Linked DNA regions of Homo sapiens: region 2 is linked to region 1. The links come from fine-mapping of genetic effects on gene expression. A gene starts in region 1. The other region holds a variant in brackets. All regions are shown on one strand. Distances are between the middles of the regions.

What was found. PIP is the estimated chance that this variant, and not a neighbour inherited with it, causes the effect. A credible set is the group of variants that fine-mapping cannot tell apart.
Region 2: its variant is the best candidate, but not a certain one, in a credible set for the expression of AHSP in whole blood (INTERVAL, PIP 0.77).

The regions. Positions count from the first base shown.
Region 1 is chr16:31,523,834-31,533,116 of GRCh38, reverse strand. It overlaps AHSP (alpha hemoglobin stabilizing protein), which reads right to left and starts at 5,217. Exons shown (of 3, transcript NM_016633.4): 1 at 5,155-5,217; 2 at 4,903-4,981; 3 at 4,314-4,659. The coding sequence starts at 4,977. The coding sequence ends at 4,426.
Region 2 is chr16:31,628,166-31,637,448 of GRCh38, reverse strand. No RefSeq gene overlaps it. Among named protein-coding and RNA genes, the nearest start is that of LINC02190, 79 kb to the right of the region's middle. The variant A/G (reference allele first, on the strand shown) is at 3,492.

The DNA of each region.
Region 1 (9,283 bases):
TCAGGAGCTGTCCCTGCACTTTCACGAGCCTGCGAGAGAGGGCTTCCTTAAATTTCCCACTGATTCCTCTTTTGTCTCACCAAGTCACAGCCCTGGTAAGAAGCCAGAAGTGGCTGGGCTTGGTGGCTTATGCCTGTAATCCCAACACTTTGGGAGGCTGAGGCAGGCGGATCACCTGAAGTCAGGAGTTTGAGACCAGCCTGGCCAACATGGTGAAACTCTTGTCTCTACTAAAAATACCAAAATTAGACAGGCATGGCGGTGGGTGCCTGTAATCCCAGCTACTTGGGATGCTGAGGCAGGAGAATCGCTTGAACCTGGGAGGCGGAGGCTGCAGTGAGCCGAGGTCGCACCACTGCACTCCAGCCTAGATGACAGAGCAAGACTCCGTCTCAAAAAAAAAAAAAAAAAAAAAAAAAAGAAGCCAGATGTGTCCAGCTTGTTCCAGTGGTCAGAATTGGGCACAGAGTTTTATCATAAGAACGTGTTGCAGCTACTAATAGGAGTAAAAAGAAAGAATTTACTACAATGATGTAGCAGACATTTGTAATGCAATGTGAATATTTTGTTGTACAGATGGGGGTGGGGTGTCTTGCTGTGTTGCCCAGGCTAGTCTCAAATGCCTGACCTCAAGTGATCCTCTCAACTCAGCCTCCCAAAGTGCCAGGACTACAGGTGTGAGCAAATTGCTGAGTCTTGATGAGGGTAAGGGTCATGTTCCAGGGTCAAAGTCCAGCTGAGAGTCATCGTGAGGATCAGAGTGGGGGTCAGTGTCAGAGTGAGGATAAGGAGTGTGAGGCAAACATTCAAAGCCTGGGTCAGGGCGAGGGTCAGAGTCAGTTTCAGGGTCAGAGTTCATCACAGAGTGAGAAAGACTTAGTGCCAGGGTCAGGCTGAGTGTGTAGTTCAGGCTCAGCATAAGTTTCAGATTCACAGCAGGTTCAAGGACATGGTGAAGGTATGGATAAGGGTCCTTATAGAGTCAGGGTGAGGTCAGGATCAAGGAGACCATAAGGGTCAAGTCAGGGTCAGTGGAAAGTAAGCAGCAGAGTCAGGGTCAGGTAAGGGTCAGATTTATGGTCATGATGAGGGTTATGGTGACATTAAGATTTCCAGGCCAGGGGAGGGTCAAGTTGAGTGCCACTGTAGGGTTAGCTTCAATGTTCGGTTGGGATTAAGGGTGATGCTAAAACTGAAGGCAAAAGTGAGGGTCCGGGTCAAGTACAGAATCAGGGTCAGGGTGAGAACGAGATAGAGTGTGTAAGTGACAGTCAGGATCAGGGTCTGGTGAGTGTCACAGTCAGATGCAAGGTGAGAGTGAGCACCAGGGTAAGGCTCAGGTGTGAAGGAGGGGGTGGTGTCAGAACGAGAGCAAGGTCAGAGTCAAGGTGAGAGTGTATGCTTCAGGGTCAAGAGTCATGGTTAAAGGCCAGGTGCAGTGGCTCACACCTGTAGTCCCAGTGCTTTGGGAGGCTAAGGTGGGAGGCTTGCTTGAGGCCAGGGGTTCAAGACCAGCATGGACAACATAGTGAGACCCCATCTCTACAAAAAATACAAAAAAAAATAGCCAGGCATAGTGGCATGCACCTGTGGTCCCAGCTACTCAGGAAGCTGAGGTAGGAGGATCGCTTGAGCTCTGGAGGTCAAAGTTGCTGTGAGCCATGCTGGCACCACTGCACTACAGCCTGGGTGACAGAGCAAGACCCTGCCTCTTTAAAAAAAAAAAAAGTCATAATTATGATCACTGTCTAGGTCAAGTTGAGGATCAAGGGTCAGGGTCATAGTGAGGGTCAGAGTCAACATCATGCTAAGGGAAGGGTCAGTGAAGGTCAATTTCAGGGTAAGGGTCAGGGTAGGATTCAGGTTGAGGGTCAGAGACAGGGTGAAAATTAGGATCAGGTAAAGTTTAGGGTCCAATTCAGCATCAGGATCAGTATAAGAATGAGAATGAGAGGCAATGTCAGTGTGAGAGTCAGGGTCATTGTGAGGGCAAGGTGTCCATTATGATCAGGGGCAAGATGAAGCTAGAGGTGAGGCTCAAGTTCAGGGTCAGCTCTAGGTCAGGTTCAATATGAGGGTGAGGATAAGGGCAGGGTTATGGCTATAATGTTTTACCATTTATTTACAATCTTATTTCTAGTATTAATTCAGATACTGCTAAGCAAAAGAAGGTTATTCTTACTAATTCTAATTTATTTTCCTTCAGGAACAGTAATGGATTTGGGGCACTCTCTGCTTTAGTTATTTTATTTTTATTATTATGAACCATCAGGTTCATATCACCGTCTCTGAAAAATCAAAATATCCCCAATTTTACTTCTTGTAGATTTATAACCAGTCACTTCGTTGATAGTAATATGAGAGCAGAAAGTGCAGGTAACAGATTTTTCTGTCTTAAAAATATTTTTTGCAGCTTCTCAATTGCACAAGCTTATGGAATGGTCGGAATGGAGTTTCAATGTTGAACTTCCCAGTGAGAATCTTTTCTACCTTACACCTGTAATTGGTCATTTTCCTTTGAGCACCTGAGAAGTGCTTAGCTCAGCAGCTCCCATAGCTGGATAGTTATAAAGGTATGGAAAATTCCTCTTCATGAATTGAGCCAAAGCGGCTTCTAACATTCTTTTCAGCTAAGCTGAAAGACAAATACAGTGGTCCCTCCGTATCTGTGGGTTCCGCATCTGTGGATTCAACCAACCAAGGATGGAAAATATTTGGGGAGAAAAATGGATGGTTGCCTCTGTACTGAACATGTACAGGCTTTTTTTCTTGTCGTTACTCCCTAAATAATACAGTGTAACAACTATTTGCACAGCATTGACGTTGTAGTCGGTATTGTAAGTAATCTAGCCATGATGTGAAGTCCACGAAGAGATGTGCGTGGGTTACATGCAAACATTTCGCCATTCTGCATAAGGCACCGGAGCGTTGTGCTGTGCGCTCTCCTAGCGTCCCCCACTCACTTTCCTCCACCCACACACACCAGGCCAGGTCTCTCTTGCAAAGGTGAGGCTGCCGACTACTGTCCCGCCTGAGCGGGCTCTGGTCCTCACTCACAGACTGAGATTTCCTGAGAGGTGCCGTGGAGAAGGCCCCAGACTCTGCCTGGACCACCGACCCCAACCCAGAGGAGCTCGCCGCCTGCTTCCCTGGGAGGCGCCACTCTCCCAAGCTGGATCTAGGGCCGACCACACCCCAGGGTTGGAAGCACCGCTGGGGACACTGAGCGGGTTCCCTTTCCACCCTGATCCAGGCTGCAGAGACCTACAAAACAACAGTCGGTTCACAAGTCCCAGAGGAAAGCTTGCTGGAGGTTGGAACGAGGAGCAATCCCTCTGGGCCCCAAACTTTTCCCGCGTTAGAGAGAACACCGAAAAGGTCCAGAACTGCGCCCTCCAGCTCCCCGCGCGCACCCTGAGCCGCGTCTGATTGCTGTGCGGCGCCTCCTAGCCGCGCCCCCGCCCCGCGCACCCCCGCCCCCGCTCAGCACCCCGGGAACCCCCTCCCCCCGCGCGCCCCCGCCCCGCGCACCCTCCCCCGGAGGGCCCTCCCCTCTGCGCGTGGAGGCTTTTCCTGGAGACTGCGCCGCGGGTCTAACACCTTCATTTCGTTTTTAAAAAGCTCTTGAGTCTGGCCCGTCCCTGGTTCCGCCCAGAGCCCTAAAATAGAGGCTTCGAGTCTGGAGGTCTGGGAGAAAGGGAGCTAGACCGGGAATTGATCTGAGAAGCTTGGGGTGGGGGGAAGGCGGATTCCTCTGCTTCCCAATCCTGGCATCTGCGCCCAGGGATGTTGGAGCCAAAGGGAAGTGGCTTCCCCTCCTGAAATATAAGGGGCGCGCTAAAGGGTTCCCAGGATCCCTTCCAACTCTAAATTCCTGCGATGCCTGGGGCTCCGGGGAGGTATTTTGCGGTAGTCAGAGTCCGAAGATCCTAGAATGTAGTTTGAGCTGGGGCTAAGGACAGGGGATTGAAAAGTCGAGGCGGTGGACCTGGCGCAGGATGAACAAGACTGGGAGACTTCCAACAGTTTCCTCCTCGACAAGCAGGTCACAGGACAATGTCTGGAGGACTTCTATCCCCCTTTCTTGTTTCTGCCACCCCCTCCCCTGCAGCTCTGCACTCTCTCTAGTCCCGCCTTCCTGGCCCTCGTTCAGCCTGTTTTAGTTTAGAATCGCTGCCCGGTGGTCACTCAAGGCTGCTAACCTCTGCTGTAAGGAATTAAGCTTCCAAGAGCATATCTAAGAAGGAGGGCGGAAGGAAAGGGACCGAGTGCCTCCACATGTCAGGACAGACCATGAAAGAGAAGCCAGGAAGTCCAACAAAACCAGCACTGGTCTTTATTGAGGTGTCAGGGTAGAGTGGCAGGAGCACAGCCTAAGGACATGAAGGTCAGAGTTTCTCAGAGAGGAGGGGCTGGGTCCCTGAGCTAGGAGGAGGGCGGTGGGTGACTCGGGAGCTCATGAGACTTCAGGAAGTCCCTGTACTTGGCCAGGAAAGGGTTGGCCAGAGTGTTCAGCTCTTGCCGAAGCTCCTGCAGAGCCTTGTCTCGCTCTTGGGGCTCCCCTGTCACCTGCTGCCTGTAATAGTTGATGTAGAAGTTCATCCAGTCCTCCACCACAGTCACCATGTCTTCTTCAGAGACGAGAGGATCATTGAAGACCTGGGGGGTTGCGGAGAGGCAGTTGGCAAGGGAGAATGTGGTCAGCAATGGGATTCGGGAATACTAGAATAGTGCCACAGCACCAACTCTCACATTCTCTTTCCTCTGCATTGTATCCCGTGTCTCTCGTTGTTTCCATCAACTCCACCATTACTTCACCAGCTCCAATTATCCTCTTCCTCCACTTCCCCGGCACCCCCCAGTCTCCAGGCCAGTCCTTTGAAATGGAAAGCTTGGACTCACCTGCTGATTCAGCAGAACGCTGAACTCCTTCAATCCTGCGGAAATGAGATCCTTATTGGCCTTAAGAAGAGCCATCTGCCTGGGTAGAGAAAAGGGTAGAATTTACATATCTGTTTCCCTCCTCACTGGGTATTTCCCCCAACCCACTTCCTCCCCTTAAAAATCCCTCCTGCCCTGCAGGGCTATCTCCTTTCCAAAACCTTTCACATCCTGCCCTGCTCTGAGGTCACGATTTTCCCAGGTTGGGCTCACCTTCAGGTCTAACAGGCTGTATATGTCTCACCCACACTCTTGAGGGTGCGTGAATCTCTCTGTGCCAAGCTATAGATGTAGGCAAGGAGTCAAGTGTCAGCCTAAGATAGAAACGCCCTGCATCTAGGTCCTGAAGGAGGGTGATAGGTCATTCTAGGGAGGAGAAGAAGGGAGAGGCTTCCCTGAAGGTAGAAAGATAACAAGGCCAAAAAAAAAAAAAAAAAAGATAAATGAGGAAACCCAGGAAATGCAAGAAGGCAAGAGCCAAACCAGGGGCATGTTCCTGCTTTTTGCCCCATATTTCAGTATCCAGGCTCGAAATGCTATGGAAATTGACGTTTACTGAGCCCTATTACATGACAGAGGCTTTTGTGTAATCACAACGATGTGATCGCAATGATTCTCCCAATTCGGAGATGATGTATTAATAGCAGCTTGCATTACATTTATTCATTTGTGCCAAGCACTGTTTCAAACATGTACAAAATATTTATCCTATAAAATTTCTTTTTAGACACATTTTGCAGATAAGCCACCTGTAAGCGTGTGGACTGAACTCCACCACGCTGTGCTCCATAAGAATGGAGATAAATAGCCGGGCGTGGTGGCGGGCACCTGTAGTCTCAGCTACTTGGGAGGCTGAGGCACGAAAATCGCTTGAACCCAGGAGGCAGAGGTTGCAGTGAGCCAAGATCACACCACAGCACTCCAGCCTGGGTGACAGGGCGAGACTCCATCTCAAAAGAAAAAAAAGAATGGAGATGGATTTGTCTTGTTTACTACCCTGTCAACAGGTACCCAATAAAGCAGAAATACTCTTTTTCCTCTTTTTAAATATTTTTCCAGATATTTTCCATTTTCAGTAGATGTTTCTCAAATTTCAAAATCACTATATACTAATTGAAATAATTAAAACAATACAAAAACGTACACTGAAAAACTGAATCATTTTTGCCCCCTCCAAAGTAACCAGCATTAAACATTGTATATTTCCTGTCACTTTTTTTTTCCATTCAAAACCCAACATTCATAGGTGCCTATACACTCATAAAGCTTTGTTGATTTGCCTTTTTGGTTGTAGCATTTTTTAATCAATATACAGCAAAACTGACTTCCTTTTGGTGTACAGTATATTAAATTTTTTTTTTTTGAGAGGGAGTCTCCCTCTGTGGCCCAGGCTGGAGTGCAGTGATGCGATCTCAGCTCACTGCAAACTTTACCTCCCAGGTTCAGGCGATTCTCCTGCCTCAGCCTCCCAAGTAGCTGGGATTACAGGCGTGCATCACCACGCCTAGCTAATTTTTGTATTTTAGTAGAGATGGGGTTTCACCATGTTGGCCAGGCTAGTCTCGAACTCCTGACCTCAAGTGATCGACCCACCTTGGCCTCCCAAAGTGCTGGGATTACAGGTGTGAGCTACCGCATCTGGCCTAGTTTATTAATTTTATAACAGATTTGTGTAACTACAAACGCAGTTAAGATACAGAATGTTTCTGTCACCCAAAAACCACTCCTTCACGTTACCCTTTTGTAGCCACCCCTACCCTCACCCATAACTTCTGGCAACCACTTATCTGTTCATCACTACAGTTAAGCCTTTTTCAGGATGTCATATAAATGGAATCATACAGTATGTAACCTTTGAGACTGACTTTTTTTGGTCAGCATGATGTTCTTGAGCTCCATCCAAGTTGTCACAAGTGTCAGTGGACACATTGCATTGTATGGATGCACTGTAGTTTGTTCATTCAGCCACGGAAGGACATCTGGATTGTTTGTACTTTGGGGCAAGTGTGAATAGAGTTGCTATAAACATTTGTGTACAGGTTTCCATGTGAACATGTTTTCATTTATATAGGGTGGAAAGTATGTGTTACCGGCCAGGCACGGTGGCTCCCATCTGTGATCCCAGCACTTTGGGAGGTCAAGGCAGGCAGATCACTTGAGGTCAGGAGTTCGAGACCATCCTGGCTAACATGGCGAAACCCCCTCTCTACTAAAAATACAAAAATTAGCCAGACATGGTGGCATGCACCTGTAATCCCAGCTACTTGGGAGGCTGAGGCAGGAGAATCGCTTGAACCCAGGAGGAAGAGGCCGCAGTGAGCGAAGATCACGCCACTGCACTCCAGCCTGGGTGACAGAGTGAGACCTTGTCTCTAAATAAATAAATAAATAAATAAATTTATTATCTTACAGACTTAGAGGTCAGAAATCTAAAATGAGACTCACTAGGCTAAAATTAAGTTGTCCTCTAGGCTGTGTTCCCCTTGGAATCTCTGAAAAAGAGTTCTTTTTCTTTCCTCTTCTAGTCTATAGAAGAACCCACATTCTTTCACTCCTGGTCCCTTTCCAGCTTGAAAGCCAGCAATGACCACCAGGTCCAGTCTTTCTCACATCACACCAGGCCGACTGTCTCCTACATCCTTTCACTTCTAAATAATTTTTCTTAAATATTTCTTTAAAAATAATTCATTACCAGATGGGAAAGATCAAGATCCCAATGCCCTTCCAAAGCTCATTAAGGAAAAGTTTCAGGAAGGTCTCTGGTACATGCCAGGAAACTCAAAAGAGATGGTGCTGCCTCAGATGGCTTAGAAGACCATGCTGCCAAGAACACATCTAACATTGAAGCCACGCACAGTGGCTCATGCCTGTAAGAGGCAGAGACGGCAGGATCGTCTGAGCCCAAGGGTTCAAGACCAGCCTGGGCAACATAGTGAGACCCCATCTTTTAAAAAAAAAAGGAAAAAAAAATCTAATTTTGTTCATTCCTCAAAATTTCCTGGCACAGTTGGAACTAATCTAACTACCTGGACTATAATGAATTGCAGAGTAAAATTAGTGAGATGTAGTGAAGAATTGAAGTCTCCTCCCTCAACCAGTGTCTTGAGAATAGCAGGGGAAACTGATTCCCTTTCAGCATGCTAGATACATCAATAAAGGAAGGGTTGAACGTGAGATTACAAAAACACATTTGCTAAAGAATTGTAGAAAACCAGGATCACAAACTCATTCTGCAACAGAAAAATAAAGCACTGCTGATTTACAGAGGAATTCACTTCTGGTGATGTCTCTTAAAAATTAAGAAACCTAATAGGAACTCCCTCATCGAGGCAGGCTCTGCTTCAGCTGAACAAGAAATTAGCCAGAGGGAGGAAAAGAGAACTGTTTGGACTTCCAGGAAGGCCTCTCCTTCCACCGAGAGGACTGCAATGAAGACCTCAATCATCAGGGAAAGAAGAGCCTTCTCCAGAAATCTGATTGGAATTGATGACCCAAATCCCACTCAGTCAACGCAAAACCCTGACTTGCTCGTGGCAGTACCAGGTTGGAGTCAGGGCAAAAAGGTTGTAGATTTCATGTTACATAGTTTGGCCCATGGTTTCCCCTGTGAACATTTTGGGAGGGAGGTGAGAGCTGAACTGGTTAGGTGGAACCTTGGTCTTATTTCCTGGAGATGTGACGTTTTTGGGGCCTGTTCCTGCTGTGACTGGCACAGCAATCAGGACCTGCAGCCTCCAGAGGGTCCCAGGGCTGGGGAGGAGACATGAGCCTTGCGCATCTGAAGGTCAGCGTCTTGGCAGCATGGCTACTCGCAAGAGGGAGGAGCTCACTCTGGATCCATTCGAGAGAGACTTGTCCCTTCCCCCTCTTCTGCCCCACCCCTGGGCCACTTTCCTGTCCCCTGACTCCCACTTGACTTTGTTTTCACTAATTGGAGCTTAGCTCAGAAAATGGAGGGGGCTGAAGTTATAGGTTATGGGAGGGGAAATTTAAGTTTGGGAAGACAGAGGCTCCCTTGATTGGCACTATCAGCCACATCTGCAGCCACATGAGGGTCTCAATGCTGGGGCAGGGGGCAGTGAGACTGGCCAGGAACCTGAGTCCCCCGGGGACTCGCAGACACCTGCCCCACACATCCTGAGTGTGCTGAGGGAGACCCAGCCGAGATCAGCTGTGCTCCTGGGTAGGTGAGAGCAGGCCCTGCAGGGGGCCCAGTCCACCCAGGAAGGATGCCCAGAGTGGCTGAGTGTGCACCTCCCTCTTCTGCCTCTCCTTTTCCGCTGCAAGCAAGACCGGGGGTCAGGAGTTACAGGTGCCAGAGTCCAGAACGGGCCCCTCCTCC
Region 2 (9,283 bases), 100 kb before region 1:
TGGGTGAAAAAAAGTTCTGTGTGGTACTCCAGTGGTGAAAGATGACTCTAGACCATTGTTAAAACCTGTTGAACTGTACACCACAAAGAACAAATTTTTCTGTATAAAATTTTTAAAAAATCAGGCCGGGTGCAGTGGCTCATGCCTGTAATCCCAGCACTTTGAGAGGCCGAGGTGGGTGGTACACCTGAGGTCAGGAGTTCAAGACCAGCCTGGACAACATGGTGAAACTCCATCTCTGAAATACAAAAATTAGCTGGGCATGGTGGCGGGCACCTGTAATCCCTGTAAGCTACTTGGGAGGCTGAAGCAGGAGAATTGCTTGAACCCCGGAGGTGGAGGTTGCACTGAGCTGAGATTGTGCCATTGCACTCCAGCCTGGGCAACAGAGCAAAACTCCATCCCAAAACAAATTTTTTTTAATAGACCAAGTTGCTGAAGAAATTCAGATAGAATATAGACAATGACAGATGAATTAAGCTATATTCCAAATGTATGACATACTGACTATTTCACCGGGGTTGGAGATGAAAAGTCCTGACCCAAGTAACTTTGGGAAAGATACGGGGTATTGCAAGAATCAAAATCTCTACACAAACACTAAACTATATTTCAACTTAATTGTTGAAATTCCTCTGTCAGGAAGATTTGTCTCTTCCCTCCCTCTTTCTTCCTTCCATTCTTCCTTCCTTTCCATTTCTTCTTTCTTTCTTTTCTTCTTTCTTTTTCTTTGAAACGGAGTCTCACTCTATCGCCCAGGCTGGAGTGCAGTGGTGCAAGCTCAGCTCACTGCAACTTCCGCCTCCTGGGATCACGTGATTCTCCTGTCTCAGCCTCCTGAGTAGCTGGGACTACAGGCATGCGCCCAGCTAATTTTGTACTTTTAGTAAAGACAGGGTTTCACCATATTGTCCAGGCTGGTCTCAAACTCCAGAAGTCAGATGATCCACCTGCCTCAGCCTCCCAAAGTGCTGGGATGACAGGCATGAGTCAACGTGCCCGGTTGGTATTTACTTTCTAATTATACATGGACCTTTACATAAATGCTTTGTGCATGCATGCAATTCTGTATGCATGTTATAATATCAATAAATATTAAATATTATGGGTTGGGTGTGGTGGCTCATGCCTGTAATCCCAACACTTTGGGAGGTCAAGACGGGTGGATCACAAGGTCAGGAATTTGAGACCAGCCTGACCAACATGGTGAAACCCCATTTCTACTAAAAATACAAAAATTAGCCAGGCATGGTGGTGCGTGCCTGTAATCCCAGCTACTCAGGAGGCTGAGGCAGGAGAAATACTTGAACCCAGGAGGTAGAGGTTGCACTGAGCCGAGATTATGCCATTGCACTCCAGCCTGGGCAACAGAGCGAGACTCCATCTCAGAAAAAAAAAACAAAAACAAAAAAAGAAAACATATTGGTTCTGGAGCCAAGATGGCTGAATAGGAACAGCTCCGGTCTACAGCTCCCAGCGTGAGCAACACAGAAGACAGGTGATTTCTGCATTTCCATCTGAGGTACTGGGTTCATCTCACTAGGGAGTGCCAGACAGTGGGCGCAAGACAGTGAGTGCAGCGTACCGTGCGGGAGCCAAAGCAGGGCGAGGCATTGCCTCACTCAGGAAGCGCAAGGGGTCAGGGAGTTCCCTTTCCTAGTCAAAGAAAGGGGTGACAGACAGCACCTGGAAAATCAGGTCACTCCCACCCCAATACTGCGCTTTTCCGATGGGCTTAAAAAACGGCGCACCAGGAGATTATATCCCACACCTGGCTCAGAGGGTCCTACGCCCACTGAGTCTCGCTGATTGCTAGCATAGCAGTCTGAGATCAAACTGCAAGGTGGCAGCGAGGCTGGGGGAGTGGTGCCCACCATTGCCCAGGCTTGCTTAGGTAAACAAAGCAGCCAGGAAGCTCGAACTGGGTGGAGCCCCCCATAGCTCAAGGATGCCTGCCTGCCTCTGTAGGCTCCACCTCTGGGGGCAGAACACAGACAAACAAAAAGACAGCAGTAACCTCTGCAGACTTAAATGTCCCTGTCTGACAGCTTTGAAGAGAGCAGTGGTTCTCCCAGCACGCAGCTGGAGATCTGAGAACGGGCAGACTGCCTCCTCAAGTGGGTCCCTGACCCCTGACCCCCGAGCAGCCTAACTGGGAGGCACCCCCCAGTAGGGGCAGACTGACACCTCACACGGCCGGGTACTCCTCTGAGACAAAACTTCCAGAGGAACGATCAGACAGCAGCATTCGCGGTTCACGAAAATCCGCTGTTCTTCAGGCACCGCTGCTGGTACCCAAGCAAACAGGGTCTGGAGTGGACCTCTAGCAAACTCCAACAGACCTGCAGCTGAGGGTCCTGTCTGTTAGAAGGAAAACTAACAAACAGAAAGGACATCCACACCAAAAACCCATCTGTACATCACCATGATCAAAGACCAAAAGTAGATAAAACCACAAAGATGGGGAAAAAACAGAGCAGCAAAACTGGAAACTCTAAAAAGCAGAGCACCTCTCCTCCTCCAAAGGAACGCAGCTCCTCACCAGCAACGGAACAAAGCTGGATGGAGAATGATTTTGATGAGTTGAGAGAAGAAGTCTTCAGACCATCAGACTACTCCGAGCTACAGGAGGAAATTCAAACCAAAGGCAAAGAAGTTGAAAACTTTGAAAAAAATTTAGACAAATGTATAACTAGAATAACCAATACAGAGAAGTGCTTAAAGGAGCTGATGGAGCTGAAAGCCAAGGCTCGAGAACTACGTGAAGAATGCAGAAGCCTCAGGAGCCAATGTGATCAACTGGAAGAAAGGGTATCAGTGATGGAAGATGAAATGAATGAAATGAAGAGAGAAGGGAAGTTTAGAGAAAAAAGAATAAAAAGAAATGAACAAAGCCTCCAAGAAATATGGGACTATGTGAAAAGACCAAATCTACATCTGATTGGTGTACCTGAAAGTGACAGGGAGAATGGAAGCAAGTTGGAAAACACTCTGTAGGATATTATCCAGGAGAACTTCCCCAATCTAGCAAGGCAGGCCAACATTCAGATTCAGGAAATACAGAGAATGCCACAAAGATACTCCTCGAGAAAAGCAACTCCAAGACACATAATTGTCAGATTCACCAAAGTTGAAATGAAGGAAAATATGTTAAGGGCAGCCAGAGAGAAAGGTCGGGTTACCCACAAAGGGAAGCCCATCAGACTAACAGCGGATCTCTCGGCAGAAACTCTACAAGCCAGAAGAGAGTGGGGGCCAATATTCAACATTCTTAAAGAAAAGAATTTTCAACCCAGAATTTCATATCCAGCCAAACTAAGCTTCATAAGTGAAGGAGAAATAAAATCCTTTACAGACAAGCAAATGCTGAGAGATTTTGTCACCACCAGGCCTGCCCTAAAAGAGCTCCTGAAGGAAGCACTAAACATGGAAAGGAACAACTGGTACCAGCCACTGCAAAATCATGCCAAAATGTAAAGACCATCGAGGCT[A/G]GGAAAAAACTGCATCAACTAACGAGCAAAATAACCAGCTAACATCATAATGACAGGATCAAATTCACACATAACAATATTAACTTTAAATGTAAATGGACTAAATGCTCCAATTAAAAGACACAGACTGGCAAATTGGATAAGGAGTCAAGACCCATCAGTGTGCTGTATTCAGGAAACCCATCTCATGTGCAGAGACACACATAGGCTCAAAATAAAAGGATGAAGGAAGATCTACCAAGCAAATGGAAAACAAAAAAAGGCAGGGGTTGCAATCCTAGTCTCTGATAAAACAGACTTTAAACCAACAAAGATCAAAACAGACAAAGAAGGCCATTACATAATGGTAAAGGGATCAATTCAACAAGAAGAGCTAACTATCCTAAATATATATGCACCCAATACAGGAGCACCCAGATTCATAAAGCAAGTGCTTAGTGACCTACAAAGAGACTTAGACTCCCACACAATAATAATGGGAGACTTTAACACCCCACTGTCAACATTAGACAGATCAACAAGACAGAAAGTTAATAAGGATACCCAGGAAGTGAACTCAGCTCTGCACCAAGCAGACCTAATAGATGTCTACAGAACACTCCACCCGAAATCAGCATAATATACATTTTTTTCAGCACCACACCACACCTATTCCAAAATTGACCACATAATTGGAAGTAAAGCTCTCCTCAGCAAATGTAAAAGATTGGAAATTATAACAAACTGTCTCTCAGACCACAGTGCAATCAAACTAGAACTCAGGATTAAGAAACTCTCTCAAAACCGCTCAACTACATGGAAACCGAACAATCTACTCCTGAATGACTACTGGATACATAACGAAATGAAGGCAGAAATAAAGATGTTCTTTGAAACCAACGAGAACAAAGACACAACATACCAGAATCTCTGGGACGCATTCAAAGCACTGTGTAGAGGGAAATTTATAGCATTAAATGCCCACAAGAGAAAGCAGGAAAGATCCAAAATTGACACCCTAACATCACAATTAAAAGAACTAGAAAAGCAAGAGCAAACACATTCGAAAGCTAGCAGAAGGCAAGAAATAACTAAAATCAGAGCAGAACTGAAGGAAATAGAGACACAGAAAACCCTTCAAAAAATTAATGAATCCAAGAGCTGGATTTTTGGAAAGATCAACAAAATTGATAGACCATTAGCAAGACTAATAAAGAAGAAAAGAGAGAAGAATCAAATAGATGCAATAAAAAATGATAAAGGGGATATCACCACCAATCCCACAGAAACACAAACTACCATCAGAGAATACTACAAACACCTCTACGCAAATAAACTAGAAAATCTAGAAGAAATGGATAAATTCCTGGACACATACACCCTCCCAAGACTAAACCAGGAAGAAGTTGACTCTCTGAATAGACCAATAACAGGCTCTGAAATTGTGGCAATAATCAATAGCTTACCAACCAACAAGAGTCCAGGACCAGATGGATTCACAGCCAAATTCTACCAGAGGTACAAGGGGGAACTGGTACCATTGCTTCTGAAACTATTCCAATCAATAGAAAAAGAGGGAATCCTCCCTAACTCATTTTATGAAGCCAGCATCATCCTGATACCAAAGCCGGGCAGAGACACAACCAAAAAAGAGAATTTTAGACCAATATCCTTTATGAACATTGATGCAAAAATCCTCAGTAAAATACTGGCAAAACGAATCCAGCAGTACATCAAAAAGCTTATCCACCATGATCAAGTGGGCTTCATCCCTGGGATGCAAGGCTGGTTCAATATATGCAAATCAATAAATGTAATCCAGCATATAAACAGAACCAAAGACAAAAACCACATGATTATCTCAATAGATGCAGAAAAGGCCTTTGACAAAATTCAACAACCCTTCATGCTAAAAACTCTCAATAAATTAGGTATTGATGGGATGTATCTCAAAATAATAAGAGCTATCTATGACAAACCCACAGCCAATATCATGCTGAATGGGCAAAAACTGAAAACATTCCCTTTGAAAACTGGCACAAGACAGGGATGCCCTCTCTCACCACTCCTATTCAACATAGTGTTGGAAGTTCTGGCCAGGGCAATTAGGCAGGAGAAGGAAATAAAGGGTATTCAATTAGGAAAAGAGGAAGTCAAATTGTCCCTGTTTGCAGACGACATGATTGTATATTTAGAAAACCCCATTGTCTCAGCCCAAAATCTCCTTAAGCTGATAAGCAACTTCAGCAAAGTCTCAGGATACAAAATCAATGTACAAAAATCACAAGCATTCTTATACACCAATAACAGACAGAGAGCCAAATCATGAGTGAACTCCCATTCACAATTGCTTCGAAGAGAATAAAATACCTAGGAATCCAACTTACAAGGGATGTGAAGGACCTCTTCAAGGAGAACTACAAACCACTGCTCAATGAAATAAAAGAGGATACAAACAAATGGAAGAACATTCCATGCTCATGGGTAGGAAGAATCAATATCGTGAAAATGGCCATACTGCCTAAGGTAATTTATAGATTCAATGCCATCCCCATCAAGCTGCCAATGACTTTCTTCACAGAATTGGAAAAAACTACTTTAAAGTTCATATGGAACCAAAAAAGAGCCCGCATCACCAAGTCAATCCTAAACCAAAAGAACAAAGCTGGAGGCATCAAGCTATCTGACTTCAAACTATACTTACTACAAGCCTACAGTAACCAAAACAGCATGGTACTGGTACCAAAACAGAGATATAGATCAATGGAACAGAACAGAGCCCTCAGAAATAATGCCACATATCTACAACTATCTGATCTTTGACAAACCTGACAAAAACAAGCAATGGGGAAAGGATTCCCTATTCAATAAATGTTGCTGGGAAAACTGGCTAGCCATATGTAGAAAGCTGAAACTGGATCCCTTTCCTTACACCTTATACAAAAATTAATTCAAGATGGATTAAAGACTTAAATGTTAGACCTAAAACCATAAAAACCCTAGAAGAAAACCTAGGCATTACCATTCAGGACATAGGCATGGGCAAGGACTTCATGTCTAAAACACCAAAAGCAATGGCAACAAAAGCCAAAATTGACAAATGGGATCTAATTAAACTAAAGAGCTTCTGCACAGCAAAAGAAACTACCAGCAGAGTGAACAGGCAACCTACAAAATGGGAGAAAATTTTTGCAACCTGCTCATCTGACAAAGGGCTAATATCCAGAATCTACAATGAACTCAAACAAATTTACAAGAAAAAAACAAACCCATCAAAAAATGGGCAAAGGACATGAACAGACACTTCTCAAAAGAAGGCATTTATGCAGCCAAAAGCACATGAAAAAATGTTCACCATCACTGGCCATCAGAGAAATGCAAATCAAAACCACAATGAGATACCATCTCACACCAGTTAGAATGGCAATCATTAAAAAGTCAGGAAACAACAGGTGCTGGAGAGGATGTGGAGAAATAGGAACACTTTTACACTGTTGGTGGGACTGTAAACTAGTTCAACCCTTGGGGAAGTCAGTGTGGCGATTCCTCAGGGATCTAGAACTAGAAATACCATTTGACCCAGCCATCCCATTACTGGGTATATACCCAAAGGACTATAAATCATGCTGCTATAAAGACACATGCACACATATGTTTATTGTGGCAGTATTCACAATAGCAAAGACTTGGAACCAACCCAAATGTCCAACAATGATAGACTGGATTAAGAAAATGTGGCACATATACACCATGGAATACTATGCAGCCATAAAAAAGGATGAGTTCATGTCCTTTGTAGGGACATGGATGAAATTGGAAATCATCATTCTCAGTAAACTATCGCAAGAACAAAAAACCAAACACCGCATATTCTCACTCATAGGTGGGAATTGAATGATGAGAACACATGGACACAGGAAGGGGAACATCACACTCTGGGAACTGTTGTGGGGTGGGGGTAGGGGGGGGAGGGATAGCATTAGGAGATATACCTAATGCTACATGACAAGTTAATGGGTGCAGCACACCAGCATGGCACATGTATACATACATAACTAACCTGCACATTGTGCACATGTACCCTAAAACTTAAAGTATAATTTAAAAAATTTAAAAAATAAAAAAATTAAAAATTAAAAAATTAAAAAAAAATAAAATAAATTTTAGAATTCATTTTTATTTCTGTGAAAACTGATATTGGAATTTTAACAGGGATTACATTGTATCTGTAGATCACTTTGTGTAGTGTGGACATTTCATCAGTATTAATTTTTCCAGTCCATGAACAAGGGATATCTTTACATTTATTTGTGTCTTTTTCAATGACATTTGTCTATGTCTTTTTTTTTTTTTTTTGAAATGGAGTCTTGCTCTGTCACCCAGGCTGGACTGCAGTGGTGCAATCTTGGCTCACTGCAACTTCTGCCTCCCAGGTTCAAGCCATTCTTCTGCCTCAGCCTCCCGAGTAGCTGGGACTACAGGCACCCGCCACCACGCCCAGCTAATTTTTTGTATTTTTAGTAGAGACAGGGTTTCACCGTGTTAGCCAGGATGGTCTTGATCTCCTGACCTCGTGATCTGCCTGCCTCGGCCTCCCAAAGTGCTGGGATTACAGACGTGAGCCACTGTGCCTGGCCCATCAATGTCTTATAGATTTTACTCAGCAGATCTTTCACCTCCTTTGTTAAATGGAATCATAAGAATTTTATACTTTTTGATGCTATTATAAATTGGATTGTTTGCTTAACTTTTTTTCTCAGATCATTTATTGTTAGTATATAGAAATGCAACTAATTTTTGTATGTTAATTTTGTGACCTCAGCTTTACTGAATGAGTTTATTAGCTCTAACTCTTTGTGTATACTCTTCAGGGTTTTCTATATATAAAATCACCTAATCTGCAAGCAGATAGAATTTTAATTCTTCATTGCCAATGTGAGTGCCTTTGATTTCTTTTTCTTACCTAATTGCTCTTGTTGCAGGGCTTGTGAGCCGCCAAATTGGGGCTTATCCTGGGAAGGTTCACGGCTTCACTCAGGAAGAATTCAAGTGCAAGATAGTGGTAGAAGAAAACAGCTTTATTGAGCTGGCAGTGTTGCAGCTCTATGAGTGCTCCTGTGGAGCGAGGCTCCCCTGTAGGCAGTGTGCTGAGAGGAGCAGTTCTGCAGTCATGTACTTATATACCCACTTTTCATTACATGCAAACTAAGGGGCAGTGTTTTTTCCCTTCAATTTTTTGGAAGAATTTGAGAAGGATGGACATTAATTCATCTTTAAATGTGTGATGCAATTCACCCATGAAGTCATTTGGTCATGGGCTTTTTCTCATTGGATTTTTTATTACTGCTTCAATCTCCTTTCTTATTATTGGTCTGTTCAGTATTTCTGTTTTTTGTGATTTAATCTTGGTGAGTCATTCATTTCTAAGAATCTATTTCTAAGTTATCCAATTTGTTGTCATATAATTGTTCATAGTAGTCTGTTATTATTCTTTGTATTTGTGTGTTGTCAGTTGCAATGACTCATCTTTCTTTCTTTCTTTCATTTATTTATTTATTTGAAACAAGGTCTCACTCCGATGTCCAGGCCAAAGTGCAGTGGCGTGATCATGACTCACTGCAGCCTCAACCTCCCAGGCTCAGGTGATTCTCCCACCTCCCAAGTAGTTGGAACTACAGGTGCACACCACCGTGCTCAGCTAATTTTTGTATTTTTTAGAGAGAGGGGTTTCACCATGTTGCCCAGGCTGGTCTCCCACTCCTGAGCTCAGGTGATTTACCTACCATGGCCTCCCAAAGCGCTGGGATTACAAG